Homo sapiens: one gene and its partners. The protein of the gene in region 2 purifies or fractionates together with the protein of the main gene of each other region. This does not show direct contact. Each region holds a gene or a part of one and is shown on either strand. Other genes may lie near its edges. The genes, in order: LNPEP, CLGN, SLC12A2 and TCTN2.

The links.
Region 1: the proteins of CLGN (region 2) and LNPEP purify together in Homo sapiens (co-immunoprecipitation; 2 studies listed by BioGRID and IntAct, with this or other methods). This does not show direct contact.
Region 3: the proteins of CLGN (region 2) and SLC12A2 purify together in Homo sapiens (co-immunoprecipitation; 3 studies listed by BioGRID and IntAct, with this or other methods). This does not show direct contact.
Region 4: the proteins of CLGN (region 2) and TCTN2 purify together in Homo sapiens (affinity purification with mass spectrometry; 3 studies listed by BioGRID and IntAct, with this or other methods). This does not show direct contact.

What each region holds. Positions count from the first base shown.
Region 1 is NC_000005.10:97,030,076-97,037,102, forward strand, and holds part of LNPEP (leucyl-cystinyl aminopeptidase), read left to right. Parts: 3' UTR 1-7,027. UniProt on the Homo sapiens protein: Release of an N-terminal amino acid, cleaves before cysteine, leucine as well as other amino acids. Degrades peptide hormones such as oxytocin, vasopressin and angiotensin III, and plays a role in maintaining homeostasis during pregnancy.
Region 2 is NC_000004.12:140,417,625-140,424,651, forward strand, and holds part of CLGN (calmegin precursor), read right to left. Parts: intron 1-7,027. UniProt on the Homo sapiens protein: Functions during spermatogenesis as a chaperone for a range of client proteins that are important for sperm adhesion onto the egg zona pellucida and for subsequent penetration of the zona pellucida.
Region 3 is NC_000005.10:128,086,749-128,093,775, reverse strand, and holds part of SLC12A2 (solute carrier family 12 member 2), read right to left. Parts: intron 1-7,027. UniProt on the Homo sapiens protein: Cation-chloride cotransporter which mediates the electroneutral transport of chloride, potassium and/or sodium ions across the membrane. Plays a vital role in the regulation of ionic balance and cell volume.
Region 4 is NC_000012.12:123,666,547-123,674,122, forward strand, and holds the start of TCTN2 (tectonic-2 isoform 1 precursor), read left to right. Parts: upstream 1-4,566; 5' UTR 4,567-4,694; coding exon 4,695-4,776; intron 4,777-4,960; coding exon 4,961-5,068; intron 5,069-5,509; coding exon 5,510-5,586; intron 5,587-7,068; coding exon 7,069-7,264; intron 7,265-7,576.

The DNA of each region.
Region 1 (7,027 bases), on a different chromosome or scaffold from region 2:
CAAGTTAGAATGTATGGAATTGTGAATAAAATTATATTTTATTTTATGAAAATATTTTTATATAATAAAATTTAAAAGGCTGGTAAGCTAAAAAAATAGTCTTCTTTAATCCTAGTGTGTTTTCCCCAATTTAGTCTTTTCTAAAATTTATCTGTTTTAGAGTAGAAAATATTATATCCTGAGAATCACAGAATCATCTAAATATGTCTTATTCAACTGAAGTGATTGTAAGTCTTTATTCTTGTGCTTTGGTTAAATGAATGATAATTTAGTTGATAGTGAAAGTTAATGTGTTTTTATATTTTTAGAGTGAGGGAAAAATACTAAACTTTTGAGAGTTTTGTTGTCGTTGCTGGTTTTTTACCATGTGGTACTAAATTCCACTTTGATACAAAATTTAAATTTTGTAACTTCTCAAAATCACTTAAGATTCTTCAGTTTTACCTGTGCTTCTTGACATCGCTCCTATAATGTATGTTAGTTAACTCTGCATATGGCAAATCTTGTCTTGAATTATATCATTTCTCTCCCTCTCTCTCTCTCTCTGTGTGTGTGTGTGTGTGTGTGTGTGTGTGTGTGTGTGTGTGTGTGTGTAGTGTGGGGGGTATTGTTATGAGTAAAACTTTATCAAAACTTGGCCTGAAAAAGAGATAACTCATGATCCATTGCTATCTTTATTACTCAAAGGCTGTTCATTCCCATAATACCAGATCCATAATAGTTGTAGTTTTTTTGATGTTGTTGCCCTTACCTTAATTATTTGTAGTTTTAGTAGGCCTTGCCTCAGTTTTTCCCACAGAATTCCATAATTTTAATGTTGAACTAACCCATCTATATAGGACTTCTAAAAACTACGTCAGGAATGTAAGGTTAAATGAGAGGTAGAACTTGTAGTGTAATAGGTATAATGGTAGCTTTCAAAGTTTTATCTTCTCAAAACATTGTCTTAGCCAGTGTATTTCTGAGAACTCAGACTGAAGCACAGAAGTCACAGTATGCTTCTTTTATTTAAGCACACAGATTCATGACACAAGTACTTGTTGAACAAGTGTTCTCATTGCAGAGAGATCTACTTGAATATAAAAGGGTCATCATACTAGATTATTAAAAAAGAATTGGAAATCTTGAGTTGTGGAAGAAATGTTTATGCTTTGGAGATCTAAAAAAGTTATGAATGTAGGAATTAGATAAGTCCAGTTTGTTCTGTTAATATAAAATGGTTAGATATATTAAACTGCAAGTAGTATCAGCTTCACCATAAGCTTGGGCCTTCCTCCATCTTGTTTTATTTAAGTCTCTTTAAATGAAATTTTGTTGTCATTGTTTCAGCATTCATGAACTTTCTTACTATCACAGGTTCTACTTTAATTTTCCTTGCCATATGTGTTTCCATTTTGTGGGACATTAGCCACCACAGGAACACAAGAGTTGTCAGAAGACTCCTGGGTGTACAGAGCAAATCAAGCTGCATCAGTATTATAGGATACCAAACAGAATCCTTTCTATTAGGAAATAAGAAATCAGTTAAGTGTTGGCTGGGCGCGGTGGCTTATGCCTGTAATCCCAGCATTTTGGGATGCCAAGGTGGGCAGACCATTTGAGGCCAGGAGTTCTAAACCAGTTTGGCCGACATGGCAAAACCCCATCTCTACTAAAAATATAAAAATTAGCTGGGCATGGTGGTGCACACCTGTAATCCCAGCTACCTGGGAGGCACGAGAATCACTTGAACCCAGGAGGCGGAGGTTGCAGTGAGCCAAGGTTGTGCCACTGCACTCCAGCCTGGGTGACAAAGCGAGACTGTCTCAAAAAACAAAAAACAAAAAAAAAAGAGTTAAGTGTTGATTTTGTTGGATTACTGACAGTTTGTTGAGATGGATTTTAAAAAGAGTCTATTTAAACCAAAGTACCTGGAACCATAATCTGCCATCAGATTGCTAAACATTCACATAATCCCCATGTTTCATGGGGCTTCAGGGAAGGCAAATACATCTGAGATGAGCCACCTCCAAGGACAGCATTTCCTGGGCTGCAAAACTAGATGTGGATTTTGTTACTTAGGCCTCTCTAAAAACTGAGGCCATGGATATGACATAGCTTTTCTTCTCACCTATGCCTTTGTTACTTTTGTATTTATTGGAATTAAATCTCTTTTTAAAGAGCTTCCTTCCCCCTTCATCCCATTTGTATTTTTAAAAACTAAGTTATATATATATTTGCTTGTTTTTGCATTCTTTTATTTTGTGCTCCATTCCCTGCTTTGCCAGTTAAGTACTACCTGAAAAGTAGCGGTTCAAAAGTATGGTAAATCTCCTCCCTTAACCTTATTGCCTGTGTGGGTGACAGCTAATGGAAAAGTTGATCGATTTTTTTCAGTGGTTTTTTTGGGAGTATATACTTTAAAAATGTACATACATGTTTTTGATAGTTTTTATATTATTTCATTTTGTATATTTTTTTCCTGATGAAGAGTGATATATCATCCTATGAAAATTTCATCTACCCTTCCCATTTTACCTGTATGGGCAGTAGCTACAGACTAGTTATTTGGTTTCCTTCTTTGGAAGAAGGTGGTGATGTTGAGAGGAGAGCAAGCTATATTCTTTTAAAAGTGTGTACAGATGTTTTTGCTATTTTGTGTTATTTCATTTTGTATTTCATTCATCCATTTTGTGGACGTGTAGATAAAACGCGGTGGTCCAAAAGCATGACAGATGTCCCCTTTGCGTTTCTCCTTATTGTTCGCATGGACAATAACTGACAGAGTAGTCCTAGTTGCTGTTGTTTTGATCTAGTCTTGGGGCTGGGGTTGTATATTATTCTTTCAAGTGTGTATAAATATTGTGCCACCTTTTTATACTTCATTTTATACTTGTTTCCTTGTATGGATGCATATATACTTAATGAAAATTGAGGTTCAGAGTATGACAAATCTCTTTTCCCTTTTCCTTACTGCCTATTTAGGCAATAGCTAATAGAGTAGTTTGTTTTGTTTTGGGGTGTGGGGGAGAGTGGAGTATGTACTTAATGTATATAAATAAACTTGCTACTACATTGTATTACTAATTTGGTTCACACTGTGTCCTTCTCATGGATGTGAAAGTACCAATGAAATGTGGAGATCTCGATGTATAACAGTCTCCCATTCTCCTCATCCCTTATTGACTGCTGGGCAGTAGCTAACAGAGTAGTTGTCAAGTGGCGTATTTGAGGTGAGGGGGAGGGACGGGGAAGGTAGGAAAATGCACTTAATGTATATACATGTTTTTACTACTACATTGTATTAATTCATCGGGTGCCCAGACTGAAAGGTACCTAATGAACCATGGAGTTCCGGATGTATAACAGTCTCCTCTTTTCCCTTTCCCTTATTGCCCATGTGGGCAATACTTAAGAGTAGTTTGGGTTTATTGAAGATTTTTTGCTAGGAGAGAGAAAATTTTTTGCTAGGAGAGGTTTCAAGGTAAGAGTATATACTTTAAACATGTATATAAATGTTTTTGCTACTTTTCTGTCACTACCTTTCTTACCTTGTCCTTTACATGGATATATGAAGAAAATTGAGGTTCAGCCTGTAGCAGCTCTCCTCTTCTGCCCTTCCCTTAGATTGTCTGTGTGGGCAGGTGTCTAAGAGAGTAGTTGATTAGCTTCAGGGATTCTTTGGTGGGTGTTGGGGTATATACTTTTGTATATGTATGTACATATTTTTATTTCTTTATTATAGTGTTTCATTGGGTACCCGGTCCTTCACTTGGATGTGTAGGTTCCTAATGAGCCATGGAGTTATGGATGTATAACAATCTGTTCTCCCTTTACCCTTTTAATGTATATGGGCAATAATTTTAAAGTAGTTTGGATTTTTTTAAGTTTTGAGGGGTGGGAGGGGTCTAAGGCAGAATATATCCTTTTTAAAAATGTATATATACTTTTCATTAACTATATTGTATTATTTCATGCTGTACCCAGTCCATTGCTTGGACTTACGGGTACCTAATGAAACGTGGAGGTCCGGATGTATGAAAATCTCCTCTTTTCCCCTTTCCTTATTGCCTCTGTAGGCAATAATTATAGAGTAGTATAGATGGTTTTTCTTTTTTATCCATCTGCCTATCTCCAGGAGGATGGGGTGTGCACTTTTAGAAATGTATATAAATGTTCTTGCTCCTTTTTCCTGTTACTTCATTGTGTGCCAAGGCCTTTCCATGGATACTTAGGTACGTAATGAAAATTGAGGTTCATTCTATGAAAAAATCTCCCCTTCTCCCCTTCCCTTATTGCCTGTCTTGGCAATGGCCAGTAGAGTAGTTATTTAAGGGATTTTGTTTTTTTGTTTTTTTGTTTTTTTTTTGGTAGGGGAGGTGGGGAATTTCTGGGTTTGTCTTTTTTTTAATGTATATAAAAGTTTGCTAGTTGTTGTTATTGTTGTTCTTTCACTCTCAACACAGTTTTTTGTTTGGAGTTGTAGGAATCAAATGTAATGAGGGACCCAGACCCGAGAGTGTGGTAAATATTCTTTGCCTTCCTCAGAGCCTGTATACACAAGCAAGTAGTATGTGAGCACTACAGGGCTTGGGTTTTGGTTTTTTGCTTTTGAGGGTTTTAATGAGGAGTGGGATTGTTGAGAGGAAAAGGCAAGATATATAATTTTTTTAATGTATATAAATGTTTTGCTCCTTTTTGATGTTAACTTCATTTTGAATCTGGTCCTTTGTATGACCACTTAGGTACTTAATAGTAATAAAGTTGAGATTGACTCTATGAAAAATATCCCATACTCCCCATCCCTCATTGCCTAGGGGGCAATGGTAGAATAGATGTTTGGTTTCTTTTGGGGGTGTCTGAGTGTATATGTGTGTGTATATACACACAAGAACACACATATTTATATACTATACACACACATTTTAATGTATATAAATATTTGCTACATTCTGTGTGTTATATAATGTGGTACCCAGTCCTCTGCTGGGACATGGATGTACATAATGAAACATGGAGGTCCAGACGTATGATAACTCTCCTGTTTCCCTTCCCTCATTGCCTACAGGGGCAATAGTTTCATATCTTGGGTTTTTTATTGTTTAATTTTTTTTTATGGGGAGGGGTTCTTTGGGTGGGTAATAGTCAGGGGGAAAGGACAGTGTCTATACTTTTTAAAGATGTATATAAATGTTTCATGTTATTGGTTTTGTACCTAGTCCTTTGCATGGATATATAGGTACCTAATGAAAATCGAGGATCAGTGTATGACAAATCTCCCATCCTCCCCTTTCCTTATTGCCTGTGTCGGCAATAGGAAGTAGAATAGTTGTGTGTTGTTTACTTACTTGTCTGTTTTAGAGAGATTTCTATTTTTGGTAGGGGAATATTCTTAATATGTTTTCATATCTTTATTTCATTTTGTAGTCTTTTGCATGGCTATGTAGGGACCTAATGAAAGTCGAGTTTCATAATATGACAGCTCACTTCTTTTCCTACATATTTCCTCACTTAGCAGTAGCTAGTGTAGTTATTTTGTGGTTATTTTATTTCATTCTCTAGGATCTATTCCATTAAGGATGCAAGTGTGTAGATGCATATATATCATTTGCTTCTTTCTTCCGCCATTATTTTCCTTTAACACTTAGTCCCTTGCAAGGGGTCTGACTATACCTAACAAAAATAAAGACCTACTAAATCCCTGCCATCTGGCTGGAAGGTGTAGCAGTGTATTAATGTAACTAATAGCAACAGGTGTGCAGCAGATAAGACAGGAGAAGACACTCAGCTATGGTTGAGTTGTGAAAGCTAATTAGATCCAGCATTTCTTATGTTGATTCAGATTGAATGAGGTAGTGAAAAGGGACCTGTGCTTTTGTAAATTCTAGAAAGGCAAGAGGACAATATTGAATAAAGCTGTGTTTAAACTTCATTGCTCATATATCTTTTAGTAACTGGTAAACCGGCGAAGCTGATAAGCCAATAAGAGTGCTGTCTAGAACGCATTTGCAAACCGTTAAGAGTAGCTTCTTTTTGAGGCCTGGACTTCTGATTCATCTATAGAAGTCTATTATGATTCCATCAATTGCATAGCTTGTGTACCTGGTAGAAATTGTGTCTTGGAATGACCCTTTCGAGTTATTGACATGGCTCTGATGAATAGAACATGAGCCCCAAAACTAAATCCAAAAGGAATTTTCTATCTTTCATCCCCCACATGTGGCAAGACAAGTTGGCCCTTTCTTACCCAGAGGTCTTTTGTGTGACTGCATCTTTCTCCTCCGTTCTCCATTGTGTGCTTTCCATTTTGTCTTTAGTGCCTATACTGTTAGGTGTTTTCTTCACTGGCATTCACAAATTTAAGCCATTGCTGCCTCATTAGCCTTGTATTTTGTGTGCATATCATGTATCCAGACCTGTATGTTCGCTTTAAGCATTCTTATATCACACTGTCTCCTCATCTACCATATGGTAAATGTTAAAACTCCACATTTGTCTGCATCAGGGAAAATGCATGGGCACACATCCTCCCTCCCTCCCTCTCTGCTCTCCTCCCTTCCTTCAGGCCTCTTAGCATTGTTTGTTTTCCCATTTCTGATACTACTACTCCATGCTGAAGATTTGCCATATTACTATTTTGGAAACATTGAGTGATAGAACTCCTAGAAAATTTGCAAAGAAATGTTACATACTGTATATCAAACTCTCAGATTCTAGTGTTGAAAAAGTAGCCTATACTTTGCTATTACTTATACCTGCTGCCATAGAAAAAAATAAGTTTATTCATGACACATTTACATTTGATCATAAATAAAAGAAAAAAGGGCACCTTTTTGGAGTTAGTCATGGTAGTCATTAGTGATATTTCTGAACAGTTCTTAATTTAAAATACTTCAAAGGAAGTAAAGGTCATGGCTTAGCTGAAGGAAATGCTCCAGAAATTGGACTGTGTAAACCATCAGTACAATAATACGCTGTGTATGTATGTGTATATAAAATGAGAATTATGGCATAATTGGAGCATTTGCATTAATCAACAAACTCACAT
Region 2 (7,027 bases):
CTAGGAATCCAACTTACAAGGGATGTGAAGGACCTCTTCAAGGAGAACTACAAACCACTCCTCAATGAAATAAAAGAGGACACAAACAAATGGAAGAACATTCCATGCTCATGGGTAGGAAGAATCAATATCGTGAAAATGGCCATACTGCCCAAGGTAATTTACAGATTCAATGCCATCCCCATCAAGCTACCAATGCCTTTCTTCACAGAATTGGAAAAAACTACTTTAAAGTTCATATGGAACCAAAAAAGAGCCCGCATCGCCAAGTCAATCCTAAGCCAAAAGAATAAAGCTGGAGGCATCACACTACCTGACTTCAAACTATACTACAAGGCTACAGTAACCAAAACAGCATGGTACTGGTACCAAAACAGAGATATGGATCAATGGAACAAAACAGAGCCCTCAGAAATAACGCCGCATATCTACAACTATCTGATCTTTGACAAACCTGAGAAAAACAAGCAATGGGGAAAGGATTCCCTATTTAATAAATGGTGCTGGGAAAACTGGCTAGCCATATGTAGAAAGCTGAAACTGGATCCCTTCCTTACACCTTACACAAAAATTAATTCAAGATGGATTAAAGGCTTAAACGTTAGACCTAAAACCATAAAAACCCTAGAAGAAAACCTAGGCATTACCATTCAGGACATAGGCATGGGCAAGGACTTCATGTCTAAAACACCAAAAGCAATGGCAACAAAAGCCAAAATTGACAAATGGGATCTAATTAAACTAAAGAGCTTCTGCACAGCAAAAGAAACTACCATCAGAGTGAACAAGCAACCTACAAAATGGGAGAAAATTTTCACAACCTACTCATCTGACAAAGGGCTAATATCCAGAATCTACAATGAACTCAAACAAATTTACAAGAAAAAAACAAACAACCCCATCAAAAAGTGGGCGAAGGACATGAACAGACACTTCTCAAAAGAAGATATTTATGCAGCCAAAAAACACATGAAAAAATGCTCATCATCACTGGCCATCAGAGAAATGCAAATCAAAACCACAATGAGATACCATCTTACACCAGTTAGAATGGCAATCATTAAAAAGTCAGGAAACAACAGGTGCTGGAGAGGATGTGGAGAAATAGGAACACTTTTACACTGTTGGTGGGACTGTAAACTAGTTCAACCATTGTGGAAGTCAGTGTGGCGATTCCTCAGGGATCTAGAACTGGAAATACCATTTGACCCAGCCATCCCATTACTGGGTATATACCCAAAGGACTCTAAATCATGCTGCTATAAAGACTCATGCACACGTATGTTTATTGCGGCATTATTCACAATAGCAAAGACTTGGAACCAACCCAAATGTCCAACAATGATAGAATGGATTAAGAAAATATGGCACATATACACCATGGAATACTATGCAGCCATAAAAAATGATGAGTTCATGTCCTTTGTAGGGACATGGATGAAATTGGAAAACATCATTCTCAGTAAACTATTGCAAGAACAAAAAACCAAACACCGCATATTCTCACTCATAGGTGGGAATTGAACAATGAGATCACATGGACACAGGAAGGGGAATATCACACTCTGGGGACTGTTGTGGGGTGGGGGAACGGGGGAGGGATAGCATTGGGAGTTATACCTAATGCTAGATAACGAGTTAGTGGGTGCAGTGCACCAGTATGGCACATGTATACATATGTAACTAACCTGCACAATGTGCACATGTACCCTAAAACTTAAAGTATAATAAAAAAAAAATCTAAAGATAAAGATGATAGTAGTTATCAAACACAAATAATATGTAGACCTCTTTAAAAGTATCATGATTCCTAAATGTTCACTGAAATTGTTTTTATTATAATGTTGCTTAAGTGTATATAAACATAAAAATGGAAATTTTATAATTATAAAACCAAAATACATTTATATATAAATGCTGAGAAAAGATACAAAAATTTTTTTATCACAAATTTAATGTGGTAGAGTTTTACTAAAATCAAAGCACATTCAAAAGATCAAACAAATATAGGGCTTATTGTAATCAGGTAGACTGCTATGGAGAAAGTTCTTTTGCATATATAATTCCTATAATTCCACAATTACATAATTACTTATATATTTATGGACAAAGACAAAAATGATGGGTGCTGTCATTAACTAGGATTTGATCTCTCTAAATCACAAAAGAGGTATAACTGGGATAGGAAGTAAATGTAAAGGGATCAATTTGACACAATGAAATAGGCTTATTTCCTTAATTTCCTAGTTATTGGCACAGAAATTTGTATATCTGCAAATTGCTTATTAATTGTGAACTCTAAAAGCTTCATTGTTCTAAAAGCCTAAGGGCCTTCCATGTTACATAGTAAAAGGCACTTTGCTTGACTGGCTATTAATCATTTTTGAGCAAAATAAAAACACATAAAATAATACTACTAATAATGAACATTAATATAACTTTAGACCCATATCCTCTCTTTCAAATGAATGTACACTTTAGGTTCCAAACAATTAATTTGTTGAAAAAAAAACATTCTAAGTGCTTTGTTTGAACTCTGGTGTACTGGGCTGCCAAGAAAGAGTTAAGAGGAAGCCAAGCAGGTAGTGCTCTATCTGGAACTCTACCCTTAACTCAACCAGAGCACCCCAGTTTTATTTGTATTCTATATTATAGTTTTTCCTGACTTTTCCTTAGAAATAGTTGCCAATGCTTCAGAAAACAGTTCAGAAAACACTTTATCTTGAAAGTTTGTTTCTTCTTTAAAATTCTATGATCTTATATTTACATCAAAGAACTAGCTAATTTAATCTTTACAGCCCAGGACATGAATAGCGTAGGTACTATTCCTAATCAACAAAACAAAAACAGAGAGTTTTAAAGAACTGCAATTGGTTAGAAGGCATTCTGTAGACAATGCAGTTCTATTGTTTTTATTTGTTCTTTTTTTTAAAAAAAAAAATCAGAAATACAGACTTAATACTTTCTGCGTAATGCTGCAGTATCCTATCATTCTTCAGTGCTGCACCAGCTGACAATTGAGAATTAGATACTGAAGTTCACAGTCTTGAAATCTGTCTCACAATGGTGCCAACATGTTATTAAGTTCCAAACAAAACTATGAGGTTTGTGACATCTCATTTCTTAGAGAGAGGTATGCTATTGACAAGTCTGTACTGAAACTCTGAGAGGTCAGATGCTGGGGTAATACTACAAGAAAATGAAGTAGTTAATTTATGCATTTAAAATTGTTTTAAATCACGTGGTAAAACATTCTCATTGTTGTACAACTAATTTCCAAAACTTTCTTCATGCTCTAAAACTAAAACGCTATACACTTTTAACAACTCCCCACTACCCTTCCCTCCAGCCCCTGGAAACCATCTTTCTAATATCTATCTCTATGATTTTGACTACTCTAGGTACTGCATATAAGTGGAATCATACAGTATTGGTCTTTCTGTAACTGGCTTATTTTACTTAGCATAATGCCCTGAAGCTTCATCCATGTTGTAGCATGTATCAAATTTCCTTCCTTTTTAAAGCTGGACAGTATTCCATTGTGTGTATACACCACATTTTGTTTATACATTCATCTGTCAGTGGACACTTGGGTTGCTTCCACCTGTTGGCTGTTGTGAATAATCCTACAATGAATATGGGTATACAAATAACTCTTCGAGACCTTGTTTTCAATTCTTTTGAGTATATACCCATAAGTTGAATTGCTTGGTCATATGATAATTCTATTTTTTTTTGAATCCTCATACTGTTTTCCACAGTGGCTTTACCATTTTACCTTCCCACCAACAAGGCACAAGGGTTCCAATTTCTACACATCCTTGCCAACATTTGTTCAAAATTATGTTTTTTTAAATAGTAGTCATTGTAATAGGTCCTAATATGGCGTAGTATCATATTGTGGTTTGATTTGCATTTCCCTGATGATTAGTGATACTGAGTATCTTTTCATGTGCTTGTTGGCTATTTATACATCTTCAAGGGAAACATGTCTATTCAAGTCCTTTGCCTATTTAAAAAATCAGGTTTTGTTTTTGTTTTGAGTTGTAGGAGTTCCTACAAATTCTGGATACTGACCCCTTATCAAATATATGATTGGCAAATATTTTCTCCCATTGCATAGGTTTTTCATTTTGTTGTGTTCTTTGATGCACAGAACTTTTTAATTTTGAGTTTTCCAATTTATATATTTTTTCTTTTGTTGTCTGTGCTTTTGGTGTCATATAAAAATTACTGGCAAATTCAATGTCATGAAGCTTTCCATGTTTTCTTTTAACAGTTTTATAGTTTTCTTATGTTTAAGTCTTCAATCCATTTCGAGTTAATTTTTGTCTATGATTTAAGGTAAGGTTACAACCTCATTCTTTTGCATGTGGATAGCCAGTTTCCCCAATATCATCTCATGAGAAGACTGTCCTTTCTCACAAAATGGTCTTGGCACTTTTATAAAAAAAATTTGAACATATATGTGGGAATTTATTACTAGGCTCTTTATTGTATCCCATTGATATATATGTCTGTCTTTATGCCAGTCTCACACTGATTTGATTACTATAGCTTTGTAATAAGTTTTGAAACAGAGATGTGAGATTTCCAAACTTATTCTTTCCCAAGATTGTTCTGGCTATTTGGGGTCCCTTGAGATTCTATATGAATTTTACTATTCTTGCAAAAAGTGCTATTAGGATTATGACAGGGATTGCACTGAATCTGTAGATTACTTTGGGTTGTGTTTCCATCTTATTAAGTCTTCCAATCCCAATGAACACAATGTCTTTCCATTGATTAATATTTGTTTCTTAATTTCTTTCAGCAGCATTTCATAATTTTTCATGTACAAGTATTTTACTTCCTTGATTTATTCCTAAGTATTTTATTCTTTTTTATGTTGTTATAAATGGAATTGTTTTCTTAATTTCCTGTTCATTGTTAGTATACAGAAGTGCAACTAATTTTTGTGTGCTAGTTTTTTTACCCTGCAACTTTAGTGAATTCATTTGTTTGTTTTTTGAGATGGGATCTCACTCTGTTACCCAGGCTGGAGTGCAGTGGCACCATCATGGCCCATTGCAGCCTTGAACTCCTGGACTCAGGTGATCCTCCACTTCAGCCTCTCGAGTAGCTGGGACTACAGGCAAGCATCACCATGCCCAGCTAATGTTCTGTATTTTTCTGTAGAGATGGTTTTTGCCATGTTGCGCAGGCTGGTCTTAAACTCCTAGACTCAACTGATCTGGCTACCTTGGCCTCCAAAATTGCTGGGACTACAGGCATGAGCCACCATGCCTGGCCTTCATTTATTATTTCTAACAGACTTTTGTATTGTGTTCGTGAAATCTTTAGGGTTTTGTACATACATATAAGATCATGTTATCTGCTGAGATAATTTTACTTCTTCCTTTTCAATTTGAATGTCTTTTTTCTTTCTTTTTCTTCCCTAATTTCTCTGGCTCGGGAGAAGTGGAAAAAGCAGGCATCCTTGTCTTATTCTAGATCTTAAAGGAAAAGCTTTCAGTCTTTCACCATTTAGTCTGATGTTAACTGTGGGCTTTTCATATATGACCTTTACTATGTTGAGGTGGTTTCCTTCTATTCCTAGTGTACTGAGTGTTTTTTATTATGAAAGAGTGTTGAATCATGTCAAATGCTTTTTCTGCATGAATAAAGATGATCATGTGTTCTCCCCTCCCTACATTGTAAATGTGGCATGGTACACTGATTTTCTTATGTTGAATCATCCTTGAATTTTAGGAATAAATCCAACATGGTCATAGTATATAACTCTTTTAATATGCAGCTGAATTTTGTTGTCAAGTATTTTGTTAAGAATTTCTGCATCAATAATCATCTGGAATATTGCTCTGTAGTTTTCTTGTAGTGTCTTTGGCTTTGATAACAGGGTTATGCTGGCTTCATAGAATGAATCTGGAAGTGTTTACTCCTCTTCAATATTTCGGAAGAATTTGAGGAGGACTGGTGTTAATTCTTTCAATGTTTGGTAGAACTCACCAGTGAAGCCACCTAGTCCTGGGCTTTTATCTGCTGGGAAGTTTTTGTTTACTGATTCAATCTCCTTACCAGTTACAGGTCTGTTCAGATTTTCTACTTCTTCATGATTAATCTTGATAGAGTGTGTGTTTCTAAGAATGTATCCATTTAATCTAGGTTATCCAATTTGTTGCCATACAATCCTTCAGCGTATTCTCTTATAATCCCTCTTATTTCTGTAGAATCAGATGTAATGTCCTTTCATTACCAATTTTAGTTATTTGAGTCTTCTCTCATTTTTCTTAATCTAACTAAAGGTTTGTTAATTTTTTTGTTGACCTTTTCGAAGAATTAACTCTTGATTTCACTTGTTTTCTCTCTTGTTTTTCTATTTTCTATTTTGTTTCTCTCTGCTCTAATCTTTATTATTTCCCTCTTTCTTCTAACTTTTGGGTTTCATTTGCTCTTTTTCTAGTTCCTCAAGGTGTAAGTTAGGTTGTTAACTTGAGATCTTTTGTTTTTCATGTAAGTGCTTAAAGCTATAAATTTCCCTTTTAACACTGCTTTCACTGTATCCCATAAGTTTTGGTATCTTTTGTTCTCCTTTTCATTTGTCTCAAGATGTTTTTCTAACTTTTCTTGAGACTTATTTGGCTCATTGTTCAAGAGTGTGCTGTTTAATTTCCACATATTTGTGAATTTTTCTTGTTTTCCTTCTACTATTGATTTCTAGTTCCTTTCCTTTGTGTTCAGAAAACTTACTTTGTATGATTTCAATCTTTTAAAATTCATTAAGACTTGTTTTGTGGTCTAATATGGTCTATCCTGGAGAATGTTCTATGTGCAGTTAAGAAAAATGTGTGTTCTGCTATTGTTGGGTACAGTGTTGTCCATATGTTTATTATGTTTAGTTGGCTTGTGGTGTTATCTATTTCTTTATTGATCTGTATGGTTGTTTAAGTTATATAATTTTAGTACAGCAAGAATTTGTTTATATGGTATAGGGTAGAACATTTAGTGCTAATGTCACCCTCTTCCC
Region 3 (7,027 bases), on a different chromosome or scaffold from region 2:
TTGGTGCAAAAGTCATTGCGGTTTTTGGCATTACTTTCAATGTCAAAAAATGCAATTACTTTTACACCAACCTAATAGGATGGTAGCAGCTTAGATGAAAAGAATATTTAGAAATTCAAGTTGACAGAACTCAGTGATTGGATGGGGGAATGAGAGAAAAGTGTCAAGGATGACTCATAGGTTTCTCACTTTTGCAGTATGATGAATAGTGGTACCATTCCGAGAGATATAGCACACACTGGCAGAGGGCCTGGATTCTTGTTTCTGGAGGGAATGGGAAGAAATACTAAGTTTGTGAGCTTGAGTTATCTTTGAGACATAAAACAAAAATGTCAAGCAAGCATTGGATACCCAGAACTCAGAGGAGTGTGGGTAGAAGACGAAATTTCGGGAGTCATTGGACTACAGATGATGTAGCATAAGGAGAGAAAAAAGAGGAACAAGGAAGGAGAAAAGTCCAAATAAAGCCTTGAGGATGTTCAGGTTAGAGAAGGAGGCGACTGCAAAGGATGCGAGGCTGAAAGAGTCAGAAAGGCAGAAGGAAAACTAAGAAGCCAAGGAAGTGACCAAAACACTTCAAAAGAACACCAAATGCTGCCTGAAAGCTGAACACTGCTCAAAACAAAACAAAACAGAACAAAACAAAAACTTCCTGAAATTTGTGATAAGAATGGAGATCACTTGTGACTTTAACAAGAACTATTTATGCAAAATAGAAGCCACACTACAGCAGTTTGAGTAAAAGGTAAGGAAGGAAAGACGGCAATTATAAACAATACTCTCAACAAGTCTGGCTGAGGAAGGAAGGAAAGAGCTTGTACCTGGAAAGGAATGAGAGTTAAATAAAATATTCCGCTTTTTCTGTCAGATAGAAGCTACTCAAATTTCTTTAACAGAAGTAAACTATTGACAGGAACAGTTAAATATCCAAGAAGAAAAATGAAAATCATAGGACCTCAGAACCAAACTGCCAAGTACTGTTTACATCTACACTGTCCAATATAGTAATCAAAGGTCACAAGGAGCTACTACTTCAACACCATTGAAATGTTTGTCTGAATTGAGATGTGCTGTACTGTATGTGAAAAACACACGGGGTTTCAAACTTTGTACAAAAAAAAGAAATTGAGATATCTCATTATAAATGTTTTAATATTCATTATATCTGCAATGAATGTTTTAGACACAGTGTCAAATAAAATACGGTATATTATAAATTAATTTTGCCTGATTCTTTACTTTTTTAAATGACATATGTAGTTCATATTATATTTCTATCGGACAGCACTGATAAAGACCTTAAATGGTAACAGGCCATAATCACAACAACTGCTAGTCCAAACTTCGGACTGGGGTCCTCAGTCCAGACATGCTCTGTGAAGTTTCCTACCTCTTTCCAAGACCGTCAGCCCTATAGCCCAATTCTTGAATTGCAGCTAAATGTTTTAATCACCCCCTTCCTCTCATCTTGGCTACTGCAATGGTTCCATTAAGATGATAATGGGCTTTTACCAAAGTGGTTGTGACTGATACAATGAGAGGTATTGAGATACTGGATGTGTTTCAAACGTATAATTGTTCAGATTTGCTGATAGTCTGGATGGGGATGTATGGACAGAGTAATACCTATTTAGAATGGAGTTGATATTAATGGAGAAGTCTGTGGGAAGGGCAGGTCTCTAATGATTAGGGTCCTCTAAGTCTTTCCCCACTGGAATACTCAAGCCTGCCCTGCCAAACCACCTACGCTCCCTTGCAAAAGTCTCCAAAATGGCTAGCATACCATACCAAATTCTGTTTGAAACTAAACTGATGGAAGAACTAATTCACACTTACCCAACAAAGAACTATCCCACAGGTTTCCAGAATTCTGAACCTAGATGAATATCTAATTTGTGACTATTCAGAAAAAGCACAGAATTTTTTTAAAAATTAAGGCAGGGAAATTTCTGAGTCCAATGATACTATGAGTGTACTAGCCATAATTAGCTTCTGCTGAGAGTCAACATTCCACTAAGCTATTTTTTCTTTTTGGCTTTCCCCCTTCTTCCAATTAGAAACCCCCAAGTTCTCTACCAGCTCCAAGTTTTTCATAATAGCTTTAAGCTAGTGTTGGTAGAGATCCTAGTGAAAATGGAAAAAGACAAAGGAGGGCCTCAGCTGATAGTAGCTTTCATGGTTTAAATGAGACACCACTAATGTTTTTAACTTCAGTATTTTAAGTAATTTTCCTTGTTGCTCACCCTCAGTGGGCTTTCACTTTGTGGAATCAACCCACTAGTTCCCTACCCCTTTGTACAGTATTTGAAAGACTACTAGTTTTCATGGTTTTACCTGAAGAGCAAAAGCACATTTTTACGCTAAAAATGAAAGCTGTTTTCTTAAGTTCTACTATTTAACAAACCAGTATCTGCAATTTTACCTGTTTGCCTCATTGGAGAACTAATTTGTAGAATGAAACCCTATCTTGAGTCCATCTCCCAAACCTGCCCTTCTCACAGACTTCTCCATTAATATCAACTCCATTCTAAATAGGGGGAAAACCCTAGTATTACTCTGTCCATACATCCCCTCATCCAAACCATCAGCAAATCCCAACAATTCTACCTCTGAAACACATCCAGCATCTGAACACCTCTCATTGTATCAATCACTACTACCTTAGTAAAAGTCATTATCATCTTAATGGAACCATTGCAGTAGGCTTCTAACTGGTTTCCTGCCTTCTACTCTTGCCCCCTTACAGTATATTCTCTACACAACAATCAGCGTGGTATTTTGAAAACATAAGTCAGATCATGTCAAATCTGTGCTCAAAACCCTACAATGCCTTCCCCTAAATCACTCAGAGTAAAATCCTAAGTCTTTATCATGATCTGCAAGGTTCTGCGCTATTTGGTCCTCACTACCCCCTGACTTTATCACACTGCCTCATCAATTCGGTCTTGCTGACCTCCCTGTCTCTCCATCACACCAAGCACACTCCCATCTCAGGGTCTTGGTATCTGTTGTTCCTCTGCCTAGAGTGTTCTTTCCCTGGTATCTGCATGGGGGTCACCCCTTTCTAGAGCCTGCTCACATATCAGAGGTCTTCCCTAACAATGCTAAAACAGCATCACCCAGCCATCATCTAGCCACCTTTAATTTTCCTCGCCCTGCTTTAATTTTGTTTGTTTATTGTCTCCTACCGCTAGAATGAAAGCCCCATGACTTTGTTTTGTTTACTGCTATATCCCCAGCATTTAGAACAGTGTTGTTGTTGATGTTCAACAAGGATTTGTTGAATAACTAGGTTCACATTTATTTCACTTCAGCATAGGACTATACTATAGACTTCCCAAATATATATATGTAACATATAATGAAATATCATTGAAAGCAAACACACTCCACACATAAGAACCAAGAAACTCTATTTTGGTCCTTTAAATTCTAGTCTCACAGGATTTTAAAATGTATGAACATAAATACACACAGAGAAGATATCAATTTAGCAGTGTACTGATTTTTTGCTACATTTTAAATCCCAAAATTTCTTTCCTTCTACCCAGGAAATTTTTATGCTAAAAATTAAAAGCTGTTTTCTATTTAACAAAGCAGTAGCTGCAATTTTACCTGTTTGCCGCATTGTAGAACTACTTCAGTCAGTGTACACCTGGGGGAATGCATTTAGTATTATGGGTAAGCCTGACTTCAATGGCAAGTAGCATGGGTTTAGCAGGGCAAAGCCCCTGGCAAAACTGTGAAATCAGCCAAATTTGACTTTGCCACATGTAAATATTTCTTATCAGGGTCCCACCTTTACCCAGTTCTGGACACTACTCTACTCTTCCCCTCACCCTCGAGAGACACATTCTTGTTCCCCCAGGGTGACTTTCAAGGACTAAAGCTATACACTGAAATGATTAATAGTGTGTGAAATTTCTTGACTAGGCATCAACACAGCCCACTCAGAGAAGCAGCTCATGGTTAGAGGAGATTCTGTAATTATTTAGTGTTTTACTTAAAGTCCTTGTTAAGTGACAGGAACTGCTCACCTGATTTGTACATTCCATGAACAAATCTTTATTAAGTGCCTATTCTCTGTATGAAGATAAACACTTATACAGATGCTAGTGAAGAAGTCATAATAATATTTACATCATCACATCTCTTGATTTCTGTCAGTTATATAATCATTCAACTCTCAGGAGTTCAAGGTAGAGAAATGGTGGTGGTAATCCCCAAGGGGTCCCCCTCAACATCTTTGTTATCTTAGAACAGGTCTAAGGGATAGAAAAGATAAAGAGAGAAGAACCTGCTGCTACTATGTCCTAGCATTAAAGTCAGAAAAACCTGGATGTGAAGTCCAAATTGAGCTGTACTACTATTTTTTTTTAGACAGGGTCTTGCTGTTTTGCCCATGCTGAAGCGCAGTGGCTGTTCACAGGCATAATCACAGTGCACTACAGTCTCAAACTCCTGGGCTCAAGCAATCCTCCTGCCTCAGCCTCCCAAGCAGCTGGGACAACAGGCTCCTACCATGGTGCCTGTCCTCCAGCTGCACTTTTTGTAAAAGTGGCTATTAAGCAATTTCTTGTGTTTCTTTCTTTTTTTTTTTTTTTTTGGAGACAAAGTTTTGCTCTTGTTGCCCAGGCTGGAGTGCAATGGCGCAATCTTGGCTCACTGCAATCTCCACCTCCTGGGTTCAAGCAATTCTCCTGCCTCAGCCACCCAAATAGCTGGGATTACAGGCATGCGCCACCACGCCTGGCTAATTTTGTATTTTTAGTAGAGACAGGGTTTCACCATGTTGTTAAGGCTGGTCTCGAACTTCTGACCTCAGGTGATCCACCCGCCTCGGCCTCCCAAAGTGCTGGGATTACAGGAGTGAGCCACCGCACCTGGCCAATTTCTTCTGTTTCTATTAGCTCATTTCATCTTGAGTAAAATGTGTATAAGACCTATTTCTTAGGAATTAATGAAAATCCAACAAGCAAAGTGACACATGAAAGACAATATAGTTGCTCCCTTGACCTTTCCCCTTGTTAATGAGAAAGGCAAAAATACAGGAATCATATAGAAACCCTTGACATACCACCAGCAAAAGGCTCCTAAGCCTTGGCCCAAGGACAACTGCAATGGTAATGCTACCTTTAAAAACAAAAATATTAGAAATTATGGTTTAGCAGTCAAAATAGTAAAACACAAAATAGTAAAACACACACACAAAAAACAAACAAACAAAAACAAAAAACTACTTTAATAATGCTTTAAATCCAGTAGGAGCTAGTATGGATTGTCTACCACTCCACTTTCCACATTTGATAATCTAGCATTCCATCATACATGTTGAAGATGTCCATCAAATACTTTGTTACCCTCCACCTTTTATTTCTTCTTGTAGGGCCAAAAATCCATACTTTGATTTTTCACTCTGTGTGTGTACGTATATACATTTTTAAATCAATTCCTAGCATCAGCTTTGAAGAGTTTCTGCCTTTCCAAAAACTCTTTTCTCTCAGCTTCCCCCAACACTGCTCTCCAGGCTATTTGACAGTATGGCAGCTCTTCCTTAATTTCCTTTGCTAATGGCTCCTCAATCTCTAACAGACCTTTAAACAATCTCCAAGTCCAATGCCAGACCCTATTTTCTGTTCTCTTATCTACCACTCTCCCTAAGTAATTTAGTCCATGACCTTAAGCAACCAAATCTTTATATGTAAATATATATATTTACATATGTTTATATACAGACACACACACACACACACACACACACACACACAGAGCCTCCTCCACGACTCTTGGAATAAGTTGTCTTTGTCTTTATAGGCTACTGAAACAGAATAGCCTCAAATACAAACTTCTCCCAACCACCAAATCTATTCCTCCTCCAGTATTTCTCATCTCAAGCAACAGTACCAACATCTATTAAGTTTCTCAAGTTCAAAATCTACAAGTCAGCTTCTTTCTCACTCCCACATCCAATCCTTTGTGCCACCAACCTTTACTATCTCTCAACCAGACCACAGTAATCACTTGAGTCTCTTTGCTTCCATTCTTGCCCCTGCCAATCCATTCTCCACCCAGAGCCTAAAGATGTTAAAACAAAATGGGTCATGTGGCTACCCCACACAAAATTCTTCAATAGCGTCCCACTACATTTATAATGAAAAATAGTTATCTCCTTTTAGTTATGTTAATATACCACTCTTTCTCACCCCATTACCTTCATGTGCGCTGTCCCTTTGGTCAGGACTGTCATTCCACCCAATCATCAACTTACCCTTCAGGTCTCAGCTTCAATGTCATACTTCTCAAAAAAACGCCTTCCCAAAACCCAATTAAAATTAGGTCCTATTCTATCTTTACAAGTATCCTTTTCTTTCGTAACACTTAAAAAACAGTTATTAACTATGTTATTTGTCCAACTACTTTGTTAATGTCTGTCTAGGCAGAAGCAGTAACTGGTTTGCTAATCACCACATAATCCCACAATGTCACAAGCATGTTGTCAACATCTAAGATACCCCCTTCCCCAATAACTCATAAATGGAGAACTCATGCCTACTGGTCCTAGAATGGCTATATAATATAGCAAGATGCACCAAGGATATTTATCTTTTCCCCTACAGTTGGACATCTAGACAAAATACTTTTAAAAAGTCAGTGATGGATAATGAAAGGAATTCAACTGGAGGGAAGACAATCCAGTCCTTTTCCCTAACAAGTTTCTGAAGTATTTTACTTCTTTTCTTCTTCTGTAGTTCCCAACACAGAGTTAGTCCCATGGTAGATAATTATGCACTTAGTAGACCAAAGTAGAGTATATGCCAATCAATCGACTGCTAGAATTAGGTGTTATAAAAATTCTAAATATTATAATTCACTGAAGGCTAGAAACATTACAGAAGGTGTTAGAGAGGTAGAAGTCAATTTAGACAGAGTAAGGGACAACTTCTGGGGATCCAGCCAACCTGTTATAACCCCTCCTGTCTGCCCCTCTTTCGACAGTGATGTATAGTCATATTTGTACTACTTAACA
Region 4 (7,576 bases), on a different chromosome or scaffold from region 2:
GTCTCACTCTGTCACCCAGGATGGAGTGCAGTGGCATGATCTCAGCTCATTGCAACCTCCACCTCCCGGGTTCAAGTGATTCTCCCACCTCAGTCTCCCGAGTAGCTGCAATTACAGGCACCTGCCACCACGACCAGCTAATTTTTTTTTTTTTTTTTTTTTAGGCAGAGTCTCGCTCTGTCGCCCAGGCTGGAGTGCAGTGGTGTGTTCTCAGCTCACTGCAAGCTCTGCCTCCCGGGTTCACGCCATTCTCCTGCCTCAGCCTCCCAAGTAGCTGGGACTACAGGCACCTGCCACCATGCCCAGCTAATTTTTTTGTATTTTTAGTAAAGATGAGGTTTCACCATGTTAGCCAGGATGGTCTCAGTTTCCTGACCTCGTGATCCTCCCACCTCGGCCTCCCAAAGTGCTGGGATTACAGGCATGAGCCACCGAGCCCAGCCTAATATTTGTATTTTTAATAGAGATGGGTTTTCGCCATGTTGGCTAGGCTTGTCTTGAACTCCTGACCTCAGATGATCCACTCACCTTGGCCTCCCGAAGTGCTCGGATTGCAGGTGTGAGCCACTGCGCCTGGCCTCTTTTTTTTCTTTTTCTGTGGAGATAGCATCTTGCTGTATTGTCCAGGCTGGTCTTGAACTCCTGGGCTCAAGCAACTCCTGGGTTCCTCTTGCCTCGGCCTCCCAAAGTGTTGGGATTACAGGCATGAGCCATCACACCTAGTCTTAAAATCTATTTTATCTGATATAAGTATATAGCTACTTTTGCTCTTTTTTGGTTTCCATTAGAATATCTTTTTCCATCCCTTTATTTTTAGTCTATGTGTGTCTTTATAGGTGAAGAGTTTTTATAGGCAGCTAATCATTAGGTCTTTTTTTTTTAAATCTATTCAGCCACTCTATGTCTTTTGATTGGAGAGTTTAGTCCATTTACATTCAATGTTATTATTTATAAGTAAGGACTTACTACTGCCATTTTTAAATTTGTTTTCTGATCTTCCCTTCCTCCCTTCCTTCCATCTTCCTTTTTATGAAAGTGATTTTCTCTGGTGGTATGTTTTAATTTCTTGCTTTATATTTTTGTGTATCTGTTGTAGGCTTTTTGATATGAGTTTAGCATGAGGCTTGCAAATACCATCTTATAACCCATTATTTTAAACTGATGACAACTCTGATTGCAAAAACAAGCAGAGAAAACTAATACTCTAACTTCATCCCTCTGATTTTTAACTTTTTGTTTCTACAATATTTATATCTTATTATACTATGTCTTAAAAAGCTGTAGTTATTATTTTTGATAGGTTTGCCTTTTAGTCTACTACTCAAGATATGAATAGTTTACATATTTGTAGAGGTGCCACCTTGGTGATCTTGGGTACGATCTTGGAGAATTCCCTGGATCACCGTTAGCAGTGACGAGTCTGTACAGGTCTGCAGCAACTCGATTCTTGCCTCCTCAGAGGAAAGAATTTGGCCAAGCAGCATAAGGCAGAGTGAGAGACCAAGGCAAAGTTTAAAGCAGGGGTAAACGTTTATTAAAAAGTTTTAGAGCAGGAATGAAAGGAAGTAAAGTACACTTGGAAGAGGGCCAAGCGGGCGACTTGAGAGATTCAAGTGCCCCGTCCGACCCTTCACTGGGGGTTTCTATACATTAGCATGGTTCTGAGGTTTGTGCCCTCCCTTGATTTTTCCTTGGGGTGGGCTGTCTGCATGTCAGTGGCCTGCCAGCACTTGGGAGGGGCCGCATGTGCAGTGTGTTTACTGAAGTTGTGCGCATGCTCATTTGAGGCATTTTCCTTTACCAGTCGAGCCTTCCCAGAGGAAGGTTATATACCAGTTAAAATCTGCCATCTTGCCTCTTACTATGTATGCATGAGCCTGCTTGCCCAACTCCTGAGATCTTATCGGGAAGCTGCTGATCACCAGCTTCAAGTGTTTTCTATCTTTTTTTTTGAGATGAAGTCTCACTCTGTTGCCCAGGCTGGAGTGCAGTAGCGCGATCTCGGCTCACTGCAACATCCGACCCCTGGGTTCAAGCGATTCTCCTGCCTCAGCCTCCCGAGTAGCTGGGAGTACGGGCATGCGCCACCACGCCCAGATAATTTTTGTATTTTTGGGTAGAGATGGGTTTCTCTGTGTTGCCCAGGTTGGTCTTGAACTCCTGGCCTCAAGTGATCCATGTGCCTTTGCCACCCAAAGTGCAGGGATTACAGGCATAAGCCACCAAGCCCGGCCCAGAAATGTTTTCTTTTGGGAGGATTTATCTCTTAATCTTTACCGCTTGGCCTTGCCAACTTAATTTGCAGATTAATTCCCCCCAAAGACAGATGGGGAATAACAGAAATATTTAAGTGTTTGACAGCTTCCTCTTAGTAACGTTCTCCTAGGCTTCATTCCAAGATATCAAGAGAGGTAAACATTTTGCAGTCTTCCAGAGAGGAGCTGAGGTACACGGGAAAAGTTTCATGCTCATGTTACAACTGTAGTGACCCACAGTTTTTCAGGGAGTATAAGAAAAAGATAACACCCAGTGTCAGGCCCTTATAAAGCCTCAACTTTCAGAATCCTTTCACAATGTTAGATTTGCTGATCAATGAATATATAACTGAACATTAAGAGTAATAATGGGGCTGGGTACGGTGGCCCATACCTGTAATCCCAGCACTTTTAGAGGCCAAGGCAGGAGGATCACTTGAGCCCAGGAGTTTGAGACCAGCCTGGGCCACATGGTGAAACCCCGTCTCTATAAAAAATACAAAAATTAGCCGGGTGTGGTGGTGTATTGCCAGTTACTTGGGAGGCTGAGGTGGGAGGATCAGCTGAGCCCAGAAGTTTGAGGATGCAGTGAGCTATGATTGTGCCACTGCACCATTCCAGCCTGGGTGACAGAGTGAGACCCTGTCTCAAAAAGAAAAAAAAAAAAGACTAATAATGGCAAACATTTACTTGGCATTTACCGTCAGTCAGCCACAATGCTGAACACCATGATTGTCTCAGCTAAAGGATACACCACCTCTCTGATAGTTAACAAGTAACTGATCATTAACTGAGTGCTTACTGTATGCCAGCCATTGGTTTAACCTCATTAGATATGTTACCTCATTTCATCCTCACACAATCCCCAAGGAAGGATTATTATCATCCCTTTTTTATAGATGAGGAAGCTGAAACTTAGAGAGGTTGACTTGCCCAAAGTCACTTAACAGCTGAGAATATCTGTGGAGGGAAGGCGAAATCCCATGCCAGGCAGCCTGACCTCAGACCCTGCACTCTCAGTCCCCAAGCCGTGACAATATTTGAAATGTTCTGAGGCTACTGATATAAGAAAAAACAATTTTTTTCCAGACAGAATTTTGATTCTTTCACATCTGTCCTATTGCTGGGCAAAACCTCTTGTGTGTTCTGTGATTGGATCTGCTTTCAGAGTGCTGAGAGCTCTGTGCAGGGGAGAAAATCCTTCAAAAACCTAGGAGAATGATAATAAAAGCAATAGTGATAATAAATGATAATGATAAGAATTATAAAAATATAAATTTTATAAAATTATAACATATAAGTATAAAATTTACAAAATATATACTTATATAAAAGATAAATATATATAAGATAAAATATAAATACATATATATTTTATAAGATAAATAAATAAATAAATATATTTTTGAGACGGAGTCTGGCTCTGTCGCCCAGGTTTGAGTGCAGTGGTGCAATCGCGGCTCACTGCAACCTCCGCCTCCCAGATTCATACAATTCTCCTGCCTCAGCCTCCTGAGTAGCTGGGATAATAGGCGCCTGCCACCACGCCTGGCTAATTTTTTGTATTTTTAGTAGAGACGGGGTTTCACCATGTTGATCAGGCTGGTCTCAGACTCCTGACATTGTGATCCGCCCGCCTCGGCCTCCCAAATTGCTGGGATTACAGGCATGAGCCGCCAGACCCGGCCTATATGTATTTTATATATATCAAGTATGTATATCTGATATATATATATAAAACAAAGTATATCTATTTTGTAAATATATATTTATTTTATAAAAATATAAAATATAAATAATACATCATAAACGATAGTAAAGATAATAAACACAGCGCGGCAGCCCCATCCCCTTTTTCTACTCACCCCTAAAACAAATCCGTATAAAAATCAAGTTTATTAAGGAGCAAGTCCCACCCTTTTTATTTAGAAGCCAGTGTCTATAGGATCGCTCTTGGCTATTGTTGGATTAATTCCAGGGTAGGGGAAAACTCCAGTTTTTGAGCCGGACACGCACTCCTGCTTTTCAGGACCTTTTTAATTTTGATGTTTTCAACTTTTAGGCCCAGGGGTCCATGTACAGGTTGCTATATAGGTAAATTGCGTGTCACGGGGGTTGGGTGCACAGATTGTTTCGTCACCCAGGTACTAAGTGGAGCACCGGATAGGTAGTTTTTCAGCCCTCACTCTCCCCACCAGAGTCAAGCAGCAAAAATGCTAGGCCTTGTGGGCGGGGCCGGGGTGCCCGCTCTTGCCACTGGTCCAATCACAGCGCGGCGTTCCTCCTGGCCGGCCGCCGATTGGTGGTTGCCATAGCTCCGGGCGTTCGCTTGCAAGATGGCGGCGGCGGGGCAGTGGCTGCTGCGTTTTCGTGTCTGAGTCCTTCCTGGGTTCTAATGAGGGCGCGGTTCTGCTGTGCCCGGCCCGCGAGGTCTAAGGCATGGGCTTCCAGCCTCCGGCCGCTCTTCTTTTGAGGCTTTTCCTTCTGCAGGGCATCCTGAGGCTTCTGTGGGGGGACCTGGGTGTGTACGGCGCGGCAGTGACCTCGGTGGGCCGGGGCTGAGGGGACTGGGCGTTAAAAGGGCCAGACTTGGACTCCCCCGGGAGCTTCGGGAGTCGACAACGCCAAAGCAAGCCGCCACACACACCTTAGGCGGTGATTCTTCCACTGCTAACCCCTCCTTGTCCCCTTTCCTTCCCGCCTAGCTTTCATCCCTCCTTTTATCCGAATGTCCGGCCCTGCGGTCAGCGCGTCCCTGGTCGGAGACACCGAGGGTGTGACCGTGTCCCTGGCAGTGCTGCAGGACGAGGCGGGTAAAGTCCGGCCCTCTTTTGGGGAGGGTGGGGGTTGGACTGGATCCAGACCTCCCAAGGAGCCTGGAGAGGTGGCATCCTTGGGGCCCCCTGCCTCTGTTCTCTGCAAAGTCGCATGGGGAGAAAAGGATCGGGCGGCTGCTGTAGGCCAAAGAGGACAGACGGACAGGTTCGAAGAAAGCCTGAAATAATAATGGTTAGCATTCATTGAGCTAACATCGTGCATCATCCCATTTTCCTAGTAAGAACAGTAATATCTTTTCATCCCCTTTGACCAAGGAAGAAACAAGTTCAGAGAGGTTGTCACTGTCCCAGTGTCAAGCAGCTTGTAAAGGGCCCAATCTTAGGCTGTAATGTGAGTCCATCCTAGGCAGTCTGACTCAATGCACCCCCTGAGCTGCTGGACCTTGCTGCCTTTGCATGCTGGTCTTCTTTCTTTAGGAATATTGCCAATTCCGACGTGTGGAGTGCTGAACAATGAGACGGAAGACTGGAGCGTGACTGTGATCCCCGGTGCGGTAAGGCCAGAAGTAAACCTTCTCTGTAGCCTGTGAAGAGGCCCCCAGCTAGGGTTTCTGCAGTGCTCTCTTTATTTAACAAGGCATGGCTTTCTCCATGCTCTCAACAATCATGAAATTGTGGGCTGTTGGATCTGGTAGACACTTATCCAGCCCACGGGTTCCTTACCCTGGGGTTAGGAGTCCTTGGATGTATTTCAGTGGGTCTGTGAACTCTATGAAATTGTATGTAAAGTTCTGTGTGTATGTGCATTTTTCTGATGAGAGGGTCACCAGTTTCCTTTAGATCATCAAATGGGTCAGTGATTCAAAAAAGCTTTATGCCAGGCATCGTGGCTCACGCCTGTACTCATAGCGCTTTGGGAGATTGAGGCGGGAGGATTGCTTGAGCCCAGGAGTTCCAGACCAGCCTGTAACATAGCGAGACCTCGTCTCTACAAAACAATTAAAAAAAAAATTAGGTGGGTGGCGTACACCTACAGTCCCAGATACTTGGAGGGGGGTGGGGTAGCTGAGGCAAGAGGATTATTTGAGCCCAGGAGTTCAGGGCTGCAGAGAGCTATGATCGCACCACTGCACTTCATCCAGCCTGGGCAACAGAGCAAGACCCTGTCTCTTAAAAAAAAAGAAAAAGCTGGTCAGGCGCGGTGGCTCACGCCTGTAATCCTAGCACTTTGGGAGGCCGAGGAGGGCGGATCATCTGAGGTCAGGAGTTCAAGACCAGTCTGGCCAACATGGTGAAACCCATCTCTACTAAAAATACAAAAATTAGCTGGGCGTGATGGCGGGTGCCTGTAATCTCAGCTACTTTGGAGGCTGAGGCAGGAGAATCACTTGAACCCGGGAGGCAGAGATTGCAGTGAGCCGAGATCACGCCACTGCACTCCAGCTTGGGTGATGAGCGAGACTCCGTCTCAAAAAAAAAAGCTTCATAACCACTGATCTTGCCCAACTCTGAGCTTATGTGTAAGGATACTCAAACCTGGAGAGATTAAGCATCTTCTATTTAATAAGTGTTTATTGGATACCTAGTATATGCAACATCAATTCTGGAGAGAAAAGGACAGGAAAGACAAGCTCTGCTTGTACCCCAGGAGTGAACATGTACATGTCTAAAGTCATTCTGGGATAAACTGAGGATTGTTTTCATTGACTTTTTTTGTGTATTTACTCTTCCACTGATAGGATGATAAAGAAACTAAAAAGGTGTACAATAAACTGAGTTTATTTATCAGATCTGTGTTTAGCTTTCTCTAAGTATCCCGAAGTTGTTTGCTTTTATGTTAAGGAAGAAGAATCAGGGCTTGCATGTTACCATAGGTTTATGGGGGGGAACTGAAGATAACTGTGTCATCTCTGTATACATTTCCCTTTTATAAAATGAACGGAGGCTGATGTGTACTTTTATTGTGTTTTCCATTATGTATTCTTATAGACCCTGTTTTGAGTCACTTTAAAAATACAGCAATGTTTTCCTTTCAGAAGGTGTTGGAAGTGACAGTGAGGTGGAAGAGAGGTCTGGACTGGTGTTCCTCCAATGAGACAGATTCCTTCTCAGAGTCCCCCTGTATCCTCCAGACCCTTCTGGTTTCAGCATCTCATAATTCATCCTGTTCAGCACATCTACTCATTCAAGTGGAAATTTATGCCAACTCTTCTCTGACCCATAATGCCTCAGGCAAGTGAAGTCTTTGACTGTCAAAACTTTCATGTTGTTCCCAGCTACTTAGGAGGAAGAGGTAGGAGGATTGCTTGAGCCCGGGAGGTTGATGCTATAAATGAGCTGCCCGGGAGGTTAATGCTACAAATGAGCTGTGATCGCGCCACTGCGTTCCAGCCAGGGTGACAGAGTGGGACCCTGTCTCAAAAAAAACCAAAAACAAAAACAAAAAAAGAAAAATTTGTGTCAAGCTTACCTGTTTGATTATAAGTGTATGCCATGCAATTTGTAAAGTATACTTCACTTGAGTCTGTCTTGCTTTTCTAAACT